Homo sapiens: one gene and its partners. The protein of the gene in region 1 purifies or fractionates together with the protein of each later gene. This does not show direct contact. Each region holds a gene or a part of one and is shown in the gene's direction. Other genes may lie near its edges.

Region 1 (3,521 bases):
TGAGACAGCTCCTGACCCAGCCTGGGAGTCAGGGAGGGCTTCCTGCAGGAGAGGGGATTGGAGCTGAGACCTGGAGGATGACAGGGAATGAGCCGAGGGGAGAAAACCTTGGCTGTATCCCCAGTGTCTAGAACCCCATTCCCTGGCATCTCCCGTTAAATTCACAAGCAGTCCCTGAAGATACAAGATTGATTAAAATGGCTCTGCCCTCACGGGCTCCTGGTCTGTCAAATAATCAACAGATCACACAGATGGTAACAGGGAGTGCCAGCCACTGTTTGAAGCACCTTATATACACTAAATAATTTAGTTCAACAACAACCCTATAAGGTAGGAGCTCTTATTATCCCGCTTTACTGATGGGGGAAGGCCCAGAGAGGGCAAGTACTTTGCCCAAGGACACACCAAGGAGAAAGGCAGCTGGAATCTGAACCCAGAAGTACCCAGCCTGCAGCATGTGCCATGCTTAAGGTGTGAGGCCGCATTTGGGTTAGTTCTGGGAGGAAACAGGAGGTGGTCAGGGAAGGTCAGCTGGGTAAGGGGAAGGAAGACGAATGTTTCTGTCTTTCATGGTGGGATCCTAGACAAGCCTCAGTTTCATCCTCTGTATAATGGGGATGGTTATAATACCCACCAGAGAGCAGAATTTAGGGTGAGTCATTCATTGGGTTAATAAGTGTGCATGGTCCTTATCTAAGGCAAAAGTTTGCCTTTGAGAGACAGTGGGAGAGGGAGTTGATGCCCCAGGGGGAACTGGGGTGCCGCAGTGTGCACCGTAGAGATTTCATTGCTTGGTTCCCCAGAGGGCTTCTCTGTCTCTACAGTCTATGGGGACAATGTGGAAGGCTTTGGTCTGTATTCTGGGGCAGTGAAGGGGGGGTTCTATCCAGCCTCAATTCACCCACGTGGTGGGGAGGTGAGGTCAGAATGGGGTCGGGAAGGGGGTCATCCAGGCCAGGCCACGCGTGTGAATGTGGGGCGGAGGGCTGCTGCAGGAGAGAGCCCATCTAGGGTATGGCTGGGCTGGAATATGTGTTGGCGGTGGTGGGGAGCTGCAGAGTGTGGGGAAACAGCCATCAGGTGTGGGCTGCCAAGGGCAGTGATTTGCCCGTGTCTGGTATGGGAGGTAGTGATGTAGATTTGTCTTTGGTGAGCCCAGCGTGGAGAGTTTTCAGCTCCGGCCCCGGGGTAAGAGCTGTGAAATCTGTGAGCTATCTGGGGAGAGCCATTTGGAAGGTGGAGCCAGGGGTGGTGATGTAACGCTGGAAAGGAAAGGGGTCATCCTAGTGAATGATGAGAGGGAGAGAGCTGGGGGCTGAAACACTGGGTGTAAGTGTGCCAGCGCCATGATGTCATGAGGCCCGAGAAGTGGGTCAGGTGTGTGGGCCAGGATGGGGCCTGGAGGGCAGCCGCACAGTGCTCGCAGGGATGGGGTGGTGACGTCATGGGTTGGTGAGGGCGGGGCCTCGAAGGCACCGCTGGGATGCGTGAGGTCAGGAAGGAGGCAGAGGCTGAGAAGAGGAACTGGGAGAGGCTCAGGACTGGAATGAAATCAGCCACCAGGATGAGCCACTGGTCATTCCGAAGCAAGGATGGAGGATGCAGGTAGAGGGACAGGGTCAGCGGCGGGAGGGGAGAGGGGGCTCAGGGTCCGGGGAATCCTAGAAGTGGCGGTGGTGGTGGGGTCAGTGGAGAGGAGGGGTTGTTCAGAGAGGGCTCTCTAAAGGGAAGAGAGGTGGAAAATATGTGTGCGGGTGGAGTGGGGGTTGGGGGTGGGGTTACAAGCAATTTGGGAGGGAACAGAATCCAGGTGAAATATGGGAGTGATGGAATACAGGCTGAAAGTGGGATGTGTGGAGCAGAACCTTGAGCAAATATGCGGGAAGAATGCAGTTGGAATAACGGGGTGCATTGAAGTTGAATATGCGGGAGCCCTAGGAGACCGTGGGTGGCTGGTGTAGGGAGGAGAGTGCGGCTGCCTCCCTGCCCCCAAATCTGGGAGAGCAGGATGGAATGAAGGGGCTTTGGACGGGAGAGAGGGGGCTGGTTTCCGGGGAATGTAGCATGAGGGTTGGGCTGGAATATGTGGAGTGGGAGGTTCTGCAGAGAGGAGGGGAAGGGGAGTCCAGAATTCCGTGGCCATCTGGGGGACAAGTGACGGGCAGCTGGGGTCAGGGAGGCCGTGTGGAGCTGGCACGGGTGTGGGATTTATTCCATCAGCAGTTACTGAGCACTTAGGACATGCCTAGAGGAGGGGAAGGGGCCGGGCAGCGGGTGAAGTTTGTGGAGGTGAGAGAGGTGTAAGTGTGCAAGGGGAATTGAGTTTAGGCAGAGTATTCGGTGGCTCAGTGTCTGGGATCAGGGCGGGGTGGGGGCTAAGGACAAGGCAATGGGATGCCGAAAGGGGCTGCTCTTCGCGGGGTGGGTATGGGGGGTTTCTGCCGAGCAGTGGGGAAAGGGGAGTTGGCGGCGGGGATGCGGTGTGGCGGGCCCCCTTCCTCTGTGCGGTCTCCTCCCGGGAGTTGGGGACCACGAGTGGGGGCGGTGATGCTGTGCGGCTCCTCAGGTGTTCAGTTCCGTGGGTGCCTCCTACGCCTTGGTAACCCGGACGGTGTCGCCGCTGATAGGTTCTGGGAGCCGGAGGGGGTGGGGTTGATGGGCGGGGTTTAGAACACCCAGTGGGGCGGGGCCAGTGCTGCCACGCACTGCATTGGGGTCAGGGGATGTGGGATATGCGGCAATTTGTTTGCAGCAAGATCGAGATTATTATTTTTTATTTATTTGTTTTTTCTGAGACAGAATCTTGCTCTGTTACCCAGGCTGGAGTGCAATGGCATGATCTTGGCTCACAGCAACCTCTGCCTCCCGGGTTCAAGCGATTCTCCTGTCTCAGCCTCCCGAGTAGCTGGGATTACAGGCACCTGCCACCACGCCCAGCTAATTTTTGTATTTTTAGTAGAGACGAGGTTTCACCATGTTGGCGAGGCCGGTCTCGAGCTGACCTCAAATGATCCACCCTCCTCGGCCTCCCAAAGTGCTGGGATTACAGGCGTGAGCCAACGCACACGGACGAGATCGAGATTATTAACCTGGACTTATGAACCATCAGAGAATGAAAGCACAATTGCCAGAATGTGAATTTTCCAGGGGAAGGGGGTCCCCGAATTCATCAGCCCTTCCAAAGCACTCTTCTCCCAAATGAAGTTAAGAGCTGTGATCTAGAGAGAGGTGTCTGTCAGGAGGTCTAGGGCCTACGCCATTGCCCTTGGGCCTCTGAGAAAAGAGATCTGTGGATGGGCCTGGGGGGTGGTAATTTGGGAGCCACTGAAATGAACTTGCAAAAGGTTTTGGGACTATTCATTTATCTGCAGAAGGCTCAGAAATTTCATTAGATTCTCAAAGGCTCAAGGACTCTAAAAAGGTTAAAAATCCCTTACCTGGAGTTTCAAGGATCATCTTTTTTGCCTCACAATATTGTATTTTCTGATATTAGATTTTATTTTATTTTTTGAGATGGAGTC
Region 2 (3,521 bases), on another chromosome or scaffold:
TATCTTTATTTCTCTGTAAAATAGAGATGATATTTTATAGGATTATGAGGATTAAATGTGAAACAGTATAGTACTTGACATACAGTAAACTCTTGAAACATCTATTACTGTTATTACTGTTACACACAAAACAGTATAACACTAGAAAAATCAAAGGAATACAGTGTTTGTGAAAATAGAGATATCATTGTCAGACTAGGTTATTTGTAAGTATGTAGGAACTATATCTTCATCCATGAAATCATTATTTTCAGTGAGTACTCTCTCTTAAGACTCAGTTTAGCCTACATATAGGACAGCTAATTTAAATACCTCTGTTGTTTATGCCTTGTATTATTTTTGCTAAATCATAAATGGCTTCTACTTTAATATTGCAAAGCATATTGCAGAAATACCCTTTCAAAAGACATGTTGAGGAATAAAGTCTTTGGAAAGACATATCGCGAATTCCATCTGCCAATTCTTAATATTTTGTTCAGCTTGTTTTGTGTATTCTCAAGATTTTAAAGTAACTGCTAATGTAAAACATTACTAAAACATAAAAAGATTTATTTCATAAATGCAAATTGAAGCAGACAATTTATTCTTAAGAGACTGAACAATATCAAGAAAAAGAATCCTCTAAAATATGTGATACCAAATTCATGGTGTTTGACAATGGACAAACAGTATATACAAGGAAAGCACATTGGAGAAAGGGCTTTCTGGTTATTCAACCCCTCAAATTGGCAAGAAATTATTTGGCTTACCAGGGCTCTTTTGCCTGAAAATTAAATACAGGTAAAGGAACGTAATATATTCCTATGTTTGAGCCAATTTATAGCTACTTATTACTTGTGGATAGATTTAGCTAACGAATTATTAAATGTGAGTGATTTTGTTAATGTGCAACAGTGCACATGAATGGTTTGTACTTCATTTAAGAAGAGTCTAGTTAGCCAATTTTAGAATATTTCATTTCTTTTTTTTTTTTTTTTTTGAGACGGGGTCTTGCTCTGTCACTCAGGCTGGAGTGTAATGGTGCCATCTCTGCTTCAGCCTCCTAGGTTTAAGCGATCCTCCCAAGTAGCTTAAGCGATCCTCCCAAGTAGCTGGGACGACAGACACATGTCACAACACCCAGCTAATTTTTGTATTTTGGTAGAAATGGAGTTTTGCCGCATTTCCCAGGCTGGTCTCGAACTCCTGAGCTCAAGCAATCTACCCACCGTGGCCTCCCAAAATGCTGGAATTGCAGGTGTGAGCCACTGTGCCTGGCCTAGAATATTTGTTTTGACATGAATTTTATTTAGCTTCTCAATTCTTAGGACAGTATTTAAGTTCTAGATAACTTTAATATAAATAATCTTTTATAATTTTGCACACACTCATCATTATGTGGTAAACGTACATGCGTGCTTTTTCAACAACTATTGAATGAAATGTTTCATTCAAGAATTCTCATTCAAATAGCTTATATTTTTATAGTAGAAAAAAGGCATGCATTGAAAATTCAATTTTCGGGTTTTTTGTTTGTTTGTTTGTTTGCCATTTGTTTTCATGCATTTTTAGTAAATCATTAAAGAACAGTGCAAGGCCAGGTGCCGTGGCTCACAACTGTAATCCCAACACTTTGGGAGGCCGAGAAGGGAAGATCTCTTGAGCCCAGTAGTCCAAGACTAGCCTGGGCAACACAGACCTTGTCTCTACAAAAAAATTAAAAAATTAGCCGGACATGGTGATGCATGCCTATAGTCCCAGCTACATGGGAGGCTGAAATGGGAGGATCACTTGAACCCAGGAGTTGAAAGCTGCAGTGAGCTGTGATTGTGCCACTGCACTCTAGCCTGGGCAACAGAGTGAAACTTTGTCTCTAAAAAAATTTTTTTTAATATTAAAAAAAAGAACAATGCTAATAGGCATACTGAGCCTTTTTCTATTAATTTTTCTCATACTAATTTTTCATTTATCACTTTTTAAAGTGACTTAGGTTATACGGTTGAAACTACATGTCTTAATTTGTAGTTAAACCCCCATGGTTAAATAATTTTTTTTTTTTTTTTTTTTTTTTTTTGAGACAGGGTCTCACTTGTACCCAGGCTGGAGCGCAGTGGCATGCACGATCTTGACTCACTGCAGCCTTGACCTCCTGGGCTCAATCCATCCTCCCACCTTAGTCCCCCAAGTAAGAGGGACTACAGGTGCTTACCACCATGCCCGGCTAATTTTTTGTAGAGATAGGGTTTCATCATGCTCCCCAGGCTGGGCTCAAACTCTTGAGCTCAGGCAATCCGCCCGCCTCAAGCCTCCCAAAGTGCTAGGATTATAGGCGTGAGCCACTGTGCCCAGCCAGTAATATCCTTAGTTTGATGTATTTGGCTTATAAGTTCGGTACTGAATGGGGCTTTGAAGGATGGCCTGTTTCTCACTAAGCATGTAAAATGTTTAGCCCTGTCATCTGCTGTCCACTCAGCAGCGAGAGGGATTCTTTAAAAATACTAAGTCAAATGGGTTCAGAATTCTCCAGTGGCTTCTCATCTCATTGCTTAATTGCCTGTACAGATCTGGCTCTTTGTTGCCCCGCCTGTGATCTCTTCTCCCACCACTGTCCCTCACTTTCTCTGTTCTGTTCAGTGGACCTCCTGTATTACATAGTATGCACTCACACTCGTCACTATTTTTTTCTGTGCTTGCCTTCCTCTGTTACATGTATTCATCTCCTGCCTCTGATATGCAAGTTCCTTGAGGGCAGGAACTTTGTTTTGTTTACTGCTGTATTACTAACTCTTAGAACAATTATGACACATAGTAGGCGCTCAAATATTTTTGAATGAATACATTAAATTTGGTAAGTTGATATTTATTACAGAGGATATCCTTTAAATCCAGATATTTCTAATAATAAAAGCTAATAGTTATTGAGCATTTGCCATGTGCCAAGAACAAAGGTGACAACATTGTTATGTTCAATTTTCTTATGAGGAAATTGGGCACAGAATGCCAAGAGTGTGCCACAGATAGCACATCTAGAAGATAGTCTAGATTTAAATCTAGATGATATACTTTCAGAATATGTATTTAGCAGTTTATGCTAATCTTTTACAAGACATCATGTAAACAAAAAAATTGTTATACAGGCATACCTCAGAGATATTACAGGTTTAGTTCCAAACCACTGCAATAAAGTGAATATTGGAATAAAGCAAGTCATACAAATTTTTAGTTTCCCAGTTCATATAAAAGTTATGTTTCCACTATGTGGTAGTCTATTAAATGCACAATGGTATTATGTTTAAAAAAGTACATACCTTAATTTAAAAATATCTTATTGCTAAAAAGTACAGCCATCTGAGCTTTCAGCAGGTATTTATCATTCTGCTGGTGGAAAATCTTGCCTCCATGTTGATGGCTGCTGACTTATCAGGGTTGTGGGATTGCTGAAGTTTGGGGTGGCTGTGGCAATTTCTTAAAATAACAATGAAGTTTTCTGCATCATAGATTCTTCCTTTCACAGATGATTTCTCTGTAGCATGCAATGCTGC
Region 3 (3,521 bases), on another chromosome or scaffold:
CGGCGTCCTGGCAGTGCCGCCACCACCAAGCCCATCGTCCGCTCTGTCTCCGTGGTCACAGGCAGCGAGCAGAAGAGGAAGGTGCTGGTGAGTACTGTGGCCTAGGAGTCCGGGCCCCTGCCTCCTGGAGGGCTGTTGTTCAGTTGGCATCTGACCCCTGGGTCCAGCTCCACAGGTGAACAAGTGCCTCACATCTGGACATGCTGGATCCTCGTGGCTGTTCCAGGAGGCAGGTAGGACTTGAGTCTTACAGGCGTGGGTGCTGAATCACTAGAAAGTCAAGCCAGAGCTTGGATTCTTTCAGCAACAGCCCCAGGCCTCCTGTGCCACCGCCCTTTGGATTTGTTTGAATCCTCAGGAAATGGGGTTGGCTGGGCTCGGTGGCTCACGCCTGTAATCTCAGCACTTTGGGAGGCCGAGGCAGGCGGGTCATCTGAGGTCAGCAGTTCAAGACCAGCCTGACCAACATGGTGAAACTCCGTCTCTACTAAAGATACAAAAAAAAATTAGCCGGGCATGGTGGTGCATGCCTGTAATCCTAGCTACTCGGGAGGCTGAGGCAGGAGATTTGCTCGAACCCAGGAGGCAGAGGTTGCGGTGAGCCGAGATCGTGCCGTTGCACTCCAGCCTGGCGACAGAGTGAGATGCCATCTCAAAAAAAAAAAAAAAAGAAAGAAATGGGGTTGACCTGTGGGGAGGGGTGATGAGCTCCTGGTGGCCTTGGAGAAACCTAGACGGGTGTGTGGGTGTGTGGGCAGCAGGACAGCCGTGGGAGCTTCGGGGTGAGAGCTGCCTTTCCTGCCCACCTCTGGGAGTAGGGAGGAGGGTGGGTGGTTCCCAGATGGGGGCTGTGAAAGGCAGGCCGGGCCTGCTGCACCCTGAGTTGGTGTCTGCCAGGCCCAGTCTTTGGGGCAAGGGAGGAATCGAGCCGCTCTGTGGGGGTTGGGGCAGAGCCTGACCAGAGTCTGGCCTGAGCTTCCGAATAGCAAGGGCCTGGGGGCCTTGGCTTCCATGCGGCAGCCGGTCTGGGGCTCCCTGCCTGAGGTCCGTGCCAGGCAACATAGCAGGGCAGAGAGAAGGGGTCTGGAGGGCAGTTGAGGCTTCCCACAGGAACCCCTGGCAGGCCCAGGCCAGGGTTCCACTGTGAATAAAAGGCTTGGACCTCCCCCTTCTCCTTGAAAAAGTTATTCCTGTGTCTGCCCTAGAAGCACCCCCAGGTGGGCAGGGTGTGGCCCGCCAGACGGCTAGCCGAGTTCCGGGGTAAGGGCAGCCGGGCCAGTAGCGGACCCTTGGACCAAGCAGGTTCCCAAAGCCTGGGCCAGCAGGGCGGGGACCCGGGATGTCCTGATGTGTCATTGTGGCCGGCAGGTTGTCTAAAGATGTGGTACGCCTCTAGGCATTTACAGACGTAAGCTGTGAAAATAAAAATATGCTGCACTGTTTTAGCAGAGGGGTAACCAGCTTGGGCTAGAGCCGTCTCTGAGCCTGCTGCCTCTCCTGTCCGCAGCCCTGCTCCTGCGTCACTGACCCCCTCGCCCACCTGCCTTGGCCCCTCCCGCTGTTTCTAAAGCCCTAGGTTCATGGCACATGGGGCGGGGAAGACGCACTCGAAATCGCAGATCTGGGCTGGGCGAGGTGGCTCACGCCCGTGATCCCAGCACTTTGGGAGGTTGAGGCGGGTGGATCACCTGAGGTCAGGAGTTCAATACCAGCCTGGCCAACATAGTGAAACCCTGCCTCTACTGAAAATGCAAAAATTAGCCGGGCGTGGTGGCGCGCACCCTTAATCCCAGCTACTCAGGAGGCTGAGACAGGAGAGTTGCTTGAACCCGGGCGGAGGAGGCTGCAGTGAGCCGAGATCATGCCACTGTACTCCAGCCTGGGCGAAAGAGCAAGACTCTGTCTCAAAAAAAGAAAGAAAGAAAGAAAGAGGGAGGGGGAGGGGGAGGGAGAGGGAGAGGGAGAAGGAGAAAGAAAGAAATTGCAGCTCTCTTGTTGTGTGGAGACTGTTGTAAAAGTTTCCGGGCTTTCTAGTAGATGGTCTTTCGGCGGCATGGCCAGGCTCTATCCGCGGCCGACCCAGGCACCTAACCACACTCCCAGCCTTTCTGCTGGGAAATGTTCTGTTGCTGAGTAGAGGTTCAAAGCCACAGCGAGCGCTACTCATATCGATCCCTCCTTTCCTCGGCTGGTACCATTGCCCGCTCCCGCAGTGTTGAGTGGCGACTGCTAACAGTCCCCTCGTTCATGGAATGTTCCAGCTGTTCACTTCAATTCTTTGAGGCCCTCGCTCGATCCGAGACGGCCCCACCCCTGCATGCCTGTCTGCCTTCTGTTGTGCCCATGGTGGGAGCTCGGGAACTGCTGGTGGAAGAGGAACCCCCGCCAGTGTGTGACGTGACCTCAGGGGTTTCTGTTGTGCCCGGTCCCCATCCTCTCGGCCACCTGCCCTGCTACCACTCAGTCTCATCGGGATTCCTGGAGAGCATTTGTTTTGGCCAGGCATGGCTTCACACCTGTACAAGGCGGCACGTGATTCTCTTCCTCCTGGTGTTTGTGGGTGGGGTGGGGTGCTGTCCCCTGGCTCGGAGACCTTCTCGGTGGCCATTGGCCTGGGGTTTCCACTCTACCCCTTGTCTCTAAAGATCTTCCTGCGTCCACGGCCTGCTGTCCCGGGATTCCCCATCCAGGATGTAACTGCAGTTCCTGCTGGTCTTCTGGCTCAAGAGATGTCGGTGCCAGACTGTAGAGGGTCCCTCTTCCTTGCCCCAGCTGTGTGCCCACCTGATCCTCTAGCCCCCTAGATCATTATTCACTCTGGTTCCCTTCCCCTTAAAGAAAAGAGGTCTTTAAATCCCAAGAGCACAAGCTCACTGGGGAACAGACATCACTGTGCATATGTGTCATGGCCATGGGGGCCACCTGCCCCTCCCTGGGCGATGTTGCCTCCTTCTTGCAGGTGGAGTTTAGGGTTTTTAGTCCATGACTTGATTTACCATCTGAGCATGAGTGGTGCCTTTCCACCGTGGTGTCCGTCAGTGAGTGGCAGCCCCTTCATCCCTCCCCTGACATCCCTTATCTTCCTCTTGGAGGCTGCGAAACTGACCCCAGGAAAATGGAGACAGGATGAAGGGCACCCATAATCCCATGGCCCTGATGCAATGACTGGTGCCATTTTGGGGGATGATTTCAAAATTCCTACCATGTGTTTTGAATAGGCCATTCACACCCACCATTTGGGAAAAGGGGGCTCATTGAGCAGTGAGCCTGTCCTGCCCGACCTTGCGGGCCTCTCCTAGGCGGCCACTGTTCTGTTTCTCCTGCACCCACACTTACTCTGGGCACACAGGCATCAGTGATGCTGGAGATGTGTTGGAACAAGTGCCGTATCCGTCAGCTGCGTGGGGCTCCTGCATTCTCTTTTCTTTTTCTTTTTAAGACGGGGTCTTGCTCTGTTGCCCAGGCTGGAGTGCAGTGGAGAAACCACAGCTTACTGCAGCCTCCACCTCCCGGACACAAGT
Region 4 (3,521 bases), on another chromosome or scaffold:
TCTTTCCCAATAGTTCCAACAAAGTCCCAGAATTGAGTGTCTTTGGTCTAGCCTGGGTTATGTGACCATCCTTGAGCCCATCACTGTAGCCAAGAGTACAGGGTGTTTTGATTGGTCAAGCTTCAGACACCTGCCCCAAGGTTTGAGGGGATGAGTTAGCCTCCCCAAACTTGCAATGAGAGTAGGGAGTAGGGGCCACTTTAAAGAAGGTAACAGAAGCAGCATGAAGAGGTGCAGGCAGGCCATACAACAGGCCCACGTAGTGGCCCTGGCAGTGAGCTACCTAACAGTGAGGACTTGCCTTTTCATCTGGAGACTTTTGCCTGTGAGCACCAACGCTGGGTTAGGCCCTGTGTTAGGAATGCTGTAACCATGACCACATTGCACCTCCCAGCGCTGTAGACCATCAGCTGTGAGGAGGGAAACAGTGAGACCACAGAAGTGGACAGGGCCTGCTGGGCTTTGTATGCCAGCCAGGACTTTTGGCCTGTATCTTGAAGGCTGTGGAGAACCACCAAACGGTTTTTGTTTTTTTTTAGATAGAGTCTCGCTCTGTTGCCCAGGCTGGAGTGCAATGGTGTGATCTTGGCTTACTGCAACCTCCGCCTCCGGGGTTCAAGTGATTCTCCTGCCTCAGCCTCCCAAGTAGCTGGGATTACAGGCACCTGCCACCATGCCCGGCTAATTTTTATATATTTAGTAGAGACAGGGTTTCACTGTGTTGGTCAGGCTGGTCTCAAATTCCTAACGTCAGGTGATCCACCTGCCTCGGCCTCACAAAGTGCTGGGATTACAGGTGTGAGCCATTCGCCGAGCCCACGACAGGGTTTTAATTTGTGGAGGGAGGTGGTCAGCTGTGCATTTTGGAAAGGTCACATGGTTGGAGCAAGAGGAGGAATGGGTTGGAAGAGGAATGGAAGGCAGAATAGTAATCCTGGAGACATGACCAAAGATCTTTGCCAAGATAGTGGACTGTCATGGAAGGGCCAGACACCTGGGACAGTGAGGACAGACTTTCTAGGGCTCAAGGACTGATTGGACTTGGAAGAGAGATGAGGAGGAAGAGTTATAAAGGACTTCTAGGGAGTATAGTGGGTGGGTAAGGGAGACAGGGTGGGTTCAAGAAGAGAAAGGGAGTTGAGATTTGGAAATGCTGGGTTTGAAATGCACCTAGCTTGAACTTACATGTTAGTGCAGAACAGATTATGTTGAACAGTTGGGCTGACCATAAGCTGCAATAGCGGGTGGAAGGAAACAGCTTCCTGCATGCATTCCCTCTGGCAGGCACCCATAAGAGCCTGGAGTGTGTAGGCAGGAGAGCAACAGGTGAGTAATGGCTGCCTCCCTGCAAAGGGCTTGTGTCCTATAGATTCATGTTTTACTTGTTTTGCATTTCTATAATTCACTTCATCAAGGATATGAAAATACTTTTCCAGCAACAATTCACCCTCAGGATCAAGCAGGTGATGTCACCCACTGCCCAAGCTCCTCCCCAATGTCTCCATCTTGTCTTTATGGGTTTGCCTAATCTAACCTCTGCCCCTTCACTCACTGTGCTCCAGCCACACACCTTCTACCCCAGGGCCTTTGCTCTTCCCTTCATCTCCTTCAGTCTCTGCTCAGATGCCACCTTTTCAGAAAGGCCTTACCTGACCATATCCTTCTCGCTATTCCTGTTTCCTACTTTCAAATTAGCATTTGTCACTATTTGACATTATCTGTCTCCTCCATTAGGATTATCAGCTCCTTGAGGACAAGGACTGTTTTGCTTTTTGCTGTCCCCCAGCATCTATAACAATACTAAGCCCATAGTAGGCCCTCAGGAAACCATAGTAGGAAACCTCAGGAAACCCATAGTAGGCCCTCAGGAAACCCTCGAGAATGAAGGGATGATTGAATGAGAGACTCCGAAGATGTGTGCTGCATGTGAGTTTCCAGTTGGTAGCTGACAAAGCAAGGTGCTGTCAGGGGTTGTGCCAAATAATCATGGAGGAAGTGGGAGAAAAGACCCTCCTTTCTCATTCTAGCTCCTGGTGGTGCAAGGTGCTGCAGTTGGAACCTAGCCCAGCACTCTTTTTCTAAAGTATGGCTTTTCTCTTTTCCCCTGCTTGGGGAGGGGCTTAGGGGTAGGACTGGCTGTGCTCTCTGGAGGACACACGCAGTTGGCTGGCGGCTTTCCTCTCATGTGCTAGGAAGTCTGTGTCTCAGGCTGAGGTTAGGAGTGCTGTCATGGGTTAGTGCTGTCATGTGCTAGGGGAAGGGTGGGAGGCTGCTGGCCACCTGATATCCCTGAGAGGCCTGGGCTGGGAGTCAGGGCCCTGGCTCTAGTGACTTGCTCTGTGGCATTCAACAAGCACCCCCACCCCCAGCCCCGGGCCTTGCCATTGAGTAGGAGCCAGGGAGCAGATGTGGCCAAGGTCCCACACAGCCCTGCTGCCCATGCCCTCACTTTCTAATTACAGAAACTTGCCAGTGAACGGGATGTCCTCCAGAGAGAGCTTGAAGAGCTAAAAAAGAAGTTCGAGGGCATGAGGTCTCGGAACAAGCTGCTGTCAAGTGAGATGAAGACCCTCAAGAGTCAGATGGGAACCCTGGTGGAGAAGGGCCGGCATGATGACGAGCTCATCGACGCCCTCATGGTATGGCCCCACCACTCAGGCAGGGCGAGAGCCAGGGGTGGTTCCTCAAAGGATGGGCCCCAGCCATGGCCAGAGTGAGCCCTCACTCACCCCTCAATGCCACCTGTGTAACCCCAAAGCCCGTTGCCTCCAGATGGCCCCCAGTACCAAAGCCCTGCCCCAGGGACAGGAGCAGCTCAGGGAGGCTGCCTGAGGGCAGGTAGGGGGCTGTGATGGAGCAGCACCAGGCACAAGGCACTGGGCCTATGGACCCCAAAAGAGACAGAAATGTATTGGGGGAAGGAGGTGGGATTATACCCTGGGTTATTTTTCAGCAAGGAATGAAAGGGACAAGAGGAGCCAGTACCAGTTCTTATCTCTGCAGTGGCACAGAACCCTTCCTCTTCTGGGCATGTTATAATGCTTAGTCCCTAAGATAACTTCTAGGATCATATATTTTAATCCCACTTCACAGATGGGGAAACTAAGACTCAAATTCATTAGATAACTCATCTAAGACCATACAACTGAGTTCAAAGCAGGTTTATCTGACTATAAAAACTTCCTGGATTAAACGTATCTCAAAATAATAAGAGCTATTTATGACAAACCCACAGCCAATATCATACTGAATGGGCAAAAACTGGAAGCATTCCCTTTGAAAACCAGCACAGGACAAGGATGCCCTCTCTCACCACTCCTATTCAACATAGTGTTGGAAGTTCTGGCCAGGGCGATCAGGCAAGAGAAAGAAATAAAGGGTATTCAAATAGGAAATGAGGAAGTCAAATTGTTCCTGTTTGCAGATGACATGATTGTATATTTAGAAAACCCCATCATCTCAGCCCAAAATCTCCTTAAGCTGATAAGCAACTTCAGGAGTCTCAGGATACAAAATCAATG
Region 5 (2,221 bases), on another chromosome or scaffold:
ATAATACTGTGTACTTCTTCACCTCCATGCCTCTTTCCTCATTGTGTTTTTCCACCTGAAGCACCATTTCCATTCGTTTTAGCACAAAGAAAATAGACTTTGACTTTCCCTTTCCCTGAGTATAGCTTTAAAACCTACCTTGGTTTCTGTCTTTAAATTCTTACATATGAATTGTCTCTGTTTTATGCTAATAAATTCTTTTGCAGTGAACTCTTATTTGCCAGTTGCTTCTAGCGTACTTGTCAATTCTCCAGGTATTTTAAGGCCCTCGAGAGTGGAATAGTGTCTCATGCTTGTCTTCTGGTAAACATACTATTTAATGTAAGACTAGGCAGACAGTAACTGTTGATTACTTGATTGAAAACTTGATGAATGTTACTTAACATTTTTTTCAAGCCTGTGTTTTTGGAATATTTAAGCCTTCTGTTTTTTTTTTTTTTTTCTCTTCTAGAAAGTCATTTTTTAAACAACACTCAACTTTGTGAACCCCTGAAGATTTTTTGACCGTTCCAAGTCTTAATGCCACACCACTATTCCAGCGAATTTATGCTACAACTGGTAACAATGACCAGAAGCCTGAAGAATTAAAATGCCAACACCAAACCTTTCCTTACCAGCTCTGGTCTATATTGCTCCCATGCATTTAATATATTATTTTGTTTTATAACCACTTCTAAATATTCTCAGTTCTTTCTTTTTGTTGTTGTTAATTAAGGGGTTTTGGTTTTGTTTTCTGTTTACTTTGTGTGCAACTACCTGCTTTTAATGACTCACTTTGATCAAATGACAGTGAACAAAGCCAGCCCAAGCTGGTAAGGTGCTGTTCACTTGAACAGGTGCTGTTGCGCAGAAAGGAAACTCTGTGACTAATTTAGATAGTGGCTTTCCTTCTTCTGGATTCTTTTCATTGAATTCTCACAGTAAATATTTACGGAGTTTTCAAATTGCAGCAAATATACTGTATGAGAAAATATTAATACAGATTAAAAGCCTTTCTTACATCTTGAAAATTTTCTAATATTTGAGAATTTCACAGGGATGTTTTTTATATTGGACCCTTTTGACTTTCCAGTCCTGTGACTTTCTACTTTTAGTAGAGAGTCAGAATCTCTGGACTGGAGAATAATGAAGAAGTTCACTGACTGTGCACTGTGCTTAGAGACCCTGCCGCACCACAGTGCCAATGCTTGTCAGACACATGCCCTTCGGCAGCATTCCAGAACAGGAGGGAAGAGAAAGAGAAAACTTTCTTCCCTTCTACTAAAAGATTCAGGCAGCTTAAAACCTTAGTGCTTTCTTTCTTAACATACCCACATTTCAATTCTTTCCATTATTTGAACACTTGGGTAGAACTCTTGCTTTGTATTAAACCTCTTTGTCTACACATGTAAAACTTACCTTTTGTTATTGAGCAGGCCTATCTCTTTCAGATAGTTTTATGATTCACACAGGTTTGAGGATGCTGGGGAGAGGGGGAGGGGGCTGTGGTGGTGTTCTGTTGGTTACAAGAAAGTTATACCATTTAAAGCTGGCACCAGAGACCCGATAGGGACTTATTAACTATATTGAACATTTTTTCCTTTGCCTTTGACCCTATGTATAGTTACGATGCCAGATTAGATTTATAGCAGCCTCAAGTTGTATTAAATGATATTTTGCTTCCTGTAATACTATTATAAAATAAAGTTTGTTTATTCTCTAAACTTGTCACTTCTCTTTTTCTAAAGGGTTAAAAAAACAAACTTGAGTGATATTTTTCATCAGAAGTCTTAGTATTTTGTGAAAAGTAGCATTTCAAAATCTGTTTTCAGCTCTTCTGTAATTTGATGATGCTGCCAACATCACTATTTGAAACGGTGAAAGCGACGTTGAAAGTTTGTAAATCTAATGTTGAGAGTGCCAGATTCCTTCTGCCTGGTTACATAATCCATTCCAGCTTTTACGAATTCTCCGAGGGATATTTTTGCTTGTTTTCTTTGTGCATTTTTCATTTTGTTTTCAGGAAATATTTTAGCTGTACCATCTGAATCTTGCTCCTCTGCTTCATGTCCTTCTTTACTTTGTGTCCACTGGCCCTCTGTATATCAGGCAAACTAGGCCACTGAGGGGCTGCATCCCAGTCTGATTGGGATGCTTTCTTGTGAAACTTTTGTTGGGGCACACCAGGTTATGGTGTTATTATAGAGCAAATAACCAACAGGGTACATTTCTTGTAAAGTGT

What was found.
Region 2: the proteins of CCDC61 (region 1) and CLINT1 purify together in Homo sapiens (tandem affinity purification; one study listed by IntAct). This does not show direct contact.
Region 3: the proteins of CCDC61 (region 1) and CEP131 purify together in Homo sapiens (co-immunoprecipitation; one study listed by IntAct). This does not show direct contact.
Region 4: the proteins of CCDC61 (region 1) and CCDC13 purify together in Homo sapiens (co-immunoprecipitation; one study listed by IntAct). This does not show direct contact.
Region 5: the proteins of CCDC61 (region 1) and EPB41L2 purify together in Homo sapiens (tandem affinity purification; one study listed by IntAct). This does not show direct contact.

Annotation. Positions count from the first base shown.
Region 1 is NC_000019.10:45,998,453-46,001,973, forward strand, and holds part of CCDC61 (centrosomal protein CCDC61), read left to right. Parts: intron 1-3,521. UniProt on the Homo sapiens protein: Microtubule-binding centrosomal protein required for centriole cohesion, independently of the centrosome-associated protein/CEP250 and rootletin/CROCC linker.
Region 2 is NC_000005.10:157,849,145-157,852,665, reverse strand, and holds part of CLINT1 (clathrin interactor 1), read left to right. Parts: intron 1-3,521. UniProt on the Homo sapiens protein: Binds to membranes enriched in phosphatidylinositol 4,5-bisphosphate (PtdIns(4,5)P2). May have a role in transport via clathrin-coated vesicles from the trans-Golgi network to endosomes. Stimulates clathrin assembly.
Region 3 is NC_000017.11:81,216,446-81,219,966, reverse strand, and holds part of CEP131 (centrosomal protein of 131 kDa), read left to right. Parts: coding exon 1-87; intron 88-3,521. UniProt on the Homo sapiens protein: Component of centriolar satellites contributing to the building of a complex and dynamic network required to regulate cilia/flagellum formation.
Region 4 is NC_000003.12:42,738,752-42,742,272, reverse strand, and holds part of CCDC13 (coiled-coil domain-containing protein 13), read left to right. Parts: intron 1-1,185; exon of another isoform or gene 1,186-1,298; intron 1,299-2,462; coding exon 2,463-2,639; intron 2,640-3,521. UniProt on the Homo sapiens protein: Required for primary cilia formation and promotes the localization of the ciliopathy protein BBS4 to both centriolar satellites and cilia.
Region 5 is NC_000006.12:130,838,829-130,841,049, reverse strand, and holds the end of EPB41L2 (band 4.1-like protein 2), read left to right. Parts: intron 1-451; 3' UTR 452-1,703; downstream 1,704-2,221. UniProt on the Homo sapiens protein: Required for dynein-dynactin complex and NUMA1 recruitment at the mitotic cell cortex during anaphase.